Linked DNA regions of Homo sapiens: region 1 is linked to region 2. Evidence: fine-mapped expression QTL. Tissue or cell type: whole blood. Region 2 holds a variant in brackets; the other region holds the start of a gene. All regions are shown on one strand. Distances are from middle to middle. Region 1 holds the start of UACA (uveal autoantigen with coiled-coil domains and ankyrin repeats). Region 2 has its middle 26 kb from the start of UACA.

Region 1 (2,911 bases), 26 kb before region 2:
AAAGCTAATAAATCTAGAAACTTGTATCTTCTATAAGGCTAAAAACACAACTTGCATTACAGAAGTAGAATCTTAACTGTAATGAACTCCAATATCACTAAATGACATTTCTGCCAGTTACTTTTTTTAAAAAAAAAAGTGAAACAAAGTAATCTCTGTTTTCCATGAGCTTATAAAACGACTTCATGCTTTATCAAAGAACATCAATTACGTCATCTGAATCTACTCTCTTTTTTTGAAATAGGAATTTAAGTCTAGGTAGTTCCTCCACAATTTCCTTTATGTCCAAGTAAAATAATCCTCGATATAGGTGGAGAGAAAGGCATAACTGAATTAACTCAAAAAAGCAGAAGCAGATTAATTAGTATTCTGATAAAAAGAATATAATCATTTGGTAAAATCTGCGTTGAATTGTAAAGGTTCATTTTAATTACCCCAACTAGGTAACTGTGCAGTTGGAGCATAACAACTCCTTTACGTTCGACTCTTCCAAGACTTTGTAAGTGGCACTTATTTTAATGATATAGAATTTTGATGATATCGCCATTCTTGTAACGTGACAAATTATCTAAATCACAACATCTGCGGTCAGGCTGTTTCTCAAGATTTCTGTTCTCCTGCCAACTAAAGAGGCCCCGACTACTCCTTGGCGCGCACACTGAGGCCGCGCTGCAGGTCAGCACCGAAAGAGCCCCGCACGGATCCCGCCCCACAGGTGCGATTTACACAACCCACATCACCACCACCCCTCCCAACTTCACCACCTCTAGGGTCACCACCCTGTGGGGTTTTGTCTTTACGACTAAGCCGATTCCCTCTGCCTCGCTGGGGAATCAAACTTCCCAGTGACAACGACAGCGGCCAGCACGGGACGTCCACCAGCCCGGCAGGGCTTGACGCTGTCTCAGACCCGGGGAAGGTCCGGAGTCCGGGCACGGTGGCGCGGGGTGCGCAGCCCTGCCCACCTGCCCTACCTGGTGCGAGCCCCGGCCCCGGGGACTGGGGAGCCAACACGGCCGAGCGGGCGTGGGCAGCAGGGCGAGCGCCGGGAGAGGAGAGCGACGAGGGGGGGTCAACGGAAAGAGCGGAGTAGGGGTGCCAATCGAGGAACTTTGGATTTAGGAGGAGGGGGCCAGAACCGCCCCACTGAGGTTTCTTCCAGAAGTTCGGAGGCTTGGGAGAAAGGGGTGGGGAAGAGACCCGTAGAGGCTCGGGTGCGGCGGCGGGGAGGATCCCCGGGGTCTCTGGGCTGACGGAGTCTCCGGCCTCAGGGAGGAGTCGCCAGGGCCGCCGAAGCCGAACTGGCAGAGGAAAAGCAGAGGAAGGCGGCGCGCGAACTCGCCAGCAAAGGAGGGCTGCGCTGCTCCCGGAGCGGAGCGCCTCGCAGCCCGGACCGCGGGACTCACCGCGCTGGCGGCGGCGGCGCCAGACGACGCGGGGCCGGGCACGTCCTGCCTCCTCAGGCGGGACTTGAGGCTCTTCATGGCTAACTCTTGCCTGGCCCCCGCGCGAACCTTAAAGGCTGCGGAGTGCCAGCGCGCAAGGAGTAGACGGCAGCGGCTGCAGCAGAGGCGGCGCGGGCTGTACCAGCCCCACCTGCCTGCCACCTGCGGGCCCCGGGCAGCAGACGTCGACAGGCCTGAGGCGGGGCTCCCCTCCCGTAGCCAATTGACCCGCTGCCCTGGCGGGGGCGTGGCAAACCGCGACCAATCGGAATGCGGGAATGGGGCGGGACTTCCCTTTTAAACTGAGTAACACCCTTCCTCTCCCAGCTGGAGGAAAAGTTTGGGAACTTTAGCCCGGGAAGGGGCGGAGGAGGTGGGCGGCCAGAGGCGTGGAGATGCGCGCAGGCCGGGCTCCAGGCCACCGGCGCCCGCCCACCCGGAGCTTAAGATCTAGAGAGAGCACGGGGTCCCGCCTTTGCCACCTCTCATCTTCCCGGACTCCCCTCCTCTTTCCACCCACGCGCTCTTTACCAAGTAAAGTTCCTTCCCTTCCGTCTGGTCTTAGAAATGACTCTTGGTTACCTGCACACAGAACAGCTTTCAGGAGCAACTTCTTTTCAGTCTCCTGTTTTACTACCAAATCCTGGTGCCTGGAAACCACCACACGCATCAAAAATTCCAGAAATAAACAGTCTCTAAGAAATAAGGTGCTGATTGTGCAGAAAAACGTACAGTTAAGAAAGACCTTGAAAGACGTTATAGTAAGTTACAGTACAAGTTACGTGCTCGTTTATTTGTTGAGTGAAGAATCCGCCGTATTGGAAGCAAAGGGACGGAATGGGGGCGGGGAGGGAGGAGAAGAGGTGCCATCAATTAAAAATGACTCCCACAGCCAGTGATTTAAGTTGTCAAAAAAAGTTACGCCCTTTTTTCTTCAAAAAGGTTTTTTGTTTTCTGTAGAAACACATTACATGTAAACGTATACGATGAAGTTAAATCATCTTACCTAGAAATCTGGGTTAGTAAAAATTATTTAAGAGGATGAAGAAACAGGAAGGTGCTCAGCACCCAATAATTTGCTGTTCGGGTGACATCTTCAAAAGTCTTCTTTGGAGTCATTTTTCCCCCCAGCAAAACGTTTATCGTAGCATGCATCCATTTGAAAAGACAAACGGTCCACATTTTCTGACTAACAAAGGACTCTTTTTTGTCTGAAAGGTCAGTTGCTCTCTTTAGAGTTTCTTTATAGTAACGCAAGGTTTTCTTCAAATACTGTAAGAAAGTTTTCAGAATTTCTTGGAGAGGCAGCATTCAAAGACTGTGTTAACCCTATACAACAAGTAAATAACAACTAACTACCCAAAAATATTATTAAATTTCATCTTGATTAGATCTTTGGAAGAAAATTTTCTTTGATTCCTCCCCCTTCCTCTAGATCTCCAGTCATTTAGTTCTTGTTGGCTCTT
Region 2 (2,911 bases):
TCTCTGAGCACCTTCCAGGAGTTGAAAGAAGTGCCTGAGTACTAATCCTTTTTCAGGCTCACACACTCAAACCCCTCTACATAGTTTTCCAGCTCAGCAGCATACTCTTAACTCCTCCTTTTCTGTACTCATAGCAGTCAGCATCTGTTCAACTCATTTCCTAATCTATCCCATAACCTCTCTTTCACTCTGAAGTTTAGCCATTAAATTGTTACCTCATTTCTCAAAGGCATTTGCCATATCTCTAACCAGATGTGAGATCTGAAGGGCAGAAACTGGACTCTGCACTTCCTACCTCCCACAGAATCTAATTCAGTGTCCTCCTCATGGGTAGTGCTCAATTAATGGTCCTTAATTGATGGGTCCATTAGCATTGTGGGTGTACAAAGGCATATAAGTGGACGTTCCTGTCCTCAGGAAAGATTCAGTGTAATTGAGGGAGATGGTGAGACCTGAAGAGTTAGGTGACAGTTGCAAGCAACATCACCAGGACTGTGATTCATTGTCAATAAATGCAATAGGTCAGTGGTTCCCAACCTTTGGACCCTAGACCTCTTGTAAACTATGGGTTATGCTAAGCATCACAAATCCTTATATCTGTAAGATGACTCAGACATGTCTCAAATGGTAGTCTCCTCCCCACTTATCTATGGTTTGGCTTTCTGATGTTTGTTACCCACAGTCAACCAAGGTTTGAAAATATGAAATGGAAAATTCCAGAAATAACCAATTCATGAGTTTTAAAATGTGCACTGTCCCACTTTATCCAGCCTGGGATGTGGACCCTCCCTGTGTTCAGTGGATCCACACTGCAGACACTACCTGCTCGTTAGTCACTAGATAGCCATCTCTGTTATAAGACGACTGTCACGTATCACGGTGCTTGGGTTCAAGTGACTCTTATTTTACAGGATAACAAGGCCTTGAATAACGTTGTCCTTTTTTTTTTTCTTTTTTTTCTCTGAGTTGGAGTCTCACTCTGTTGCCCAGGCTGGAGTTCTGGAGTTCAGTGGCATGATCTCAGCTCACTGCAACCTCCGCCTCCCGGGTTCAAGCAATTCTCCTACCTCAGCCCGGAGCAGCTGGAATTACAGGCAC[G/A]TGCCACCACACCTGGCTAATTTTTGTAATTTTAGTAGAGAACCCTGTCTCAAACTCCTGACCTCAAGTGTCTACCTGCCTCAGCCTCTCAAAGTGCTGGGATTACAGGCATGAGCTACTGTACCCGGCCTCTGTTATAATGTTGATAAGAAAAAAAAAAAATAAATTCTTGTCTGGGGCCGACATCTGTGTGGAGTTTGCTTGTTCTCCTCATGTCTGCGTGGGTTTCCTCCCACATCCCAAAGATATGCACATGAGGTGAATTTGCATGTCTACCTCATCTCAGGATGAGTGAGTGTGGGTGTGAGTGTGGGTGTGGCTGCACGCTGTGAGATAATGGCACCCTCTCCAGGGTGGGTTCCCACCTTGCACCCTGAGCTGCTGGGACAGGCTCCAGCTACCCATGGCTCTGAACTGCAATAAGAATGTAAATAATTATCTTACTTGCTTTTAATAATGTTTCTTAAATACATGCATAGCTCACATTTATTGTAAGGTTTAATATGAGTAGTTTGGCATATATTTAGAAGTTTGATGACAGTTTTGTCACCAGAAATATGCTGAGGGAACTTAACTATTGTTTGTGTCATTAACCTATGGTAAAATTGATTTCCTTATATGTTGTTTCACTTAAAGTCCTAGTTTCTTTTTTTTTTTTTTTTTTTTGAGATGGAATTTCGTTCTTCTTGCCCAGGCTGGAGTGCAGTGGCGCAATCTCGGCTCACCACAACCTCCGCCTCCTGGGTTCAAGCGATTCTCCTGCCTCAGCCTCCCGAGTAGCTGGGATTACAGGCATGCGCCACCATGCCTGTAATTTTGTATTTTTAGTAGAGACGGGGTTTCTCCGTGTTGGCCAGGCTGATCTCGAACTCCCGACATCAGGTGATCCGCCCACCTTGGCCTCCCAAAGTGCTGGAATTACAGGCGTGAGCCATGGCACCGGGCCTAAAGTCCTAGTTTCTGAGAACCTATTGATGATGTTAAGTGAGGACTTACTGTACTTAATGGCCCCAAAGCATAAAGAGTAGTGGTGCTGGCAATTTGGGTATGCCAAAGAGAAGGCATCAAGTGCTTCCTTTGAGGGAAAAGATAAAAGTTCTCCACTTAATAAGGAAAGAAAAGATACTGCATGATGAGGTTGTTTAGATCCATGATAAAGGCCAGGCATGGTGGCGCACATCTGTAATCCCAGCACTTTGGGAGGCCAAAGCAGGTGGATCACTTGAGGCCAGGAGTTCGAGACTAGCCTGGCCAACGTGGCAAAACCCTATCTCTACTAAAAATGCAAAAAAATTTAGCTGGGTGTGGTGGTGCATGCCTGTAATCCCAGCTGCTCAGGAGGCTGAGGCACGAGAATCGCTTGAACCTGGGAGATGGAGGTTGCAGTGAGCCCAGATTGTGCCACTTATCCCAGCCTGGGTGACAGATCAAGACTCTGTCTCAAAAAAAAAAAAAATAAAATAAAATAAAAAATAAAAATACCATGATAAGGAGTTTGTACTAGTTTGGCTGTCACACACCAAACTGCAAAAGTTACTGCCACAGTGTGTGGTAAGTGCCTAGTTTAGATGGAAAAGACATTAATTTTTGTGGGTGGAAGACATGTACAGAACATGTTTCAACTGATGGCAATTGGGTTTGGTATTATCCAAGGTTTCAGGCATCCATAGAGGGTCCTGGAATGTGTCTCCCACAGATAATGGGGGGACTATTGTACTTATTTTTCAAATGTATGTTGTGATTGGCAAAATATATAGCCTCTTAAAAGCCTAGGATTTCATGCTATCCTTTGTTAATCGTGGACATTTAAGAC

The links. PIP is the estimated chance that this variant, and not a neighbour inherited with it, causes the effect.
Region 1: UACA starts here. The variant in region 2 is the best candidate, but not a certain one, in a credible set for the expression of UACA in whole blood (INTERVAL, PIP 0.51).

What each region holds. Positions count from the first base shown.
Region 1 is chr15:70,761,924-70,764,834 of GRCh38, forward strand. It overlaps UACA (uveal autoantigen with coiled-coil domains and ankyrin repeats), which reads right to left and starts at 1,635. Exons shown (of 19, transcript NM_018003.4): 1 at 1,407-1,635. The coding sequence starts at 1,484. RefSeq lists a silencer at 1,400-1,809.
Region 2 is chr15:70,788,048-70,790,958 of GRCh38, forward strand. No RefSeq gene overlaps it. Among named protein-coding and RNA genes, the nearest start is that of UACA, 26 kb to the left of the region's middle. The variant G/A (reference allele first, on the strand shown) is at 1,099.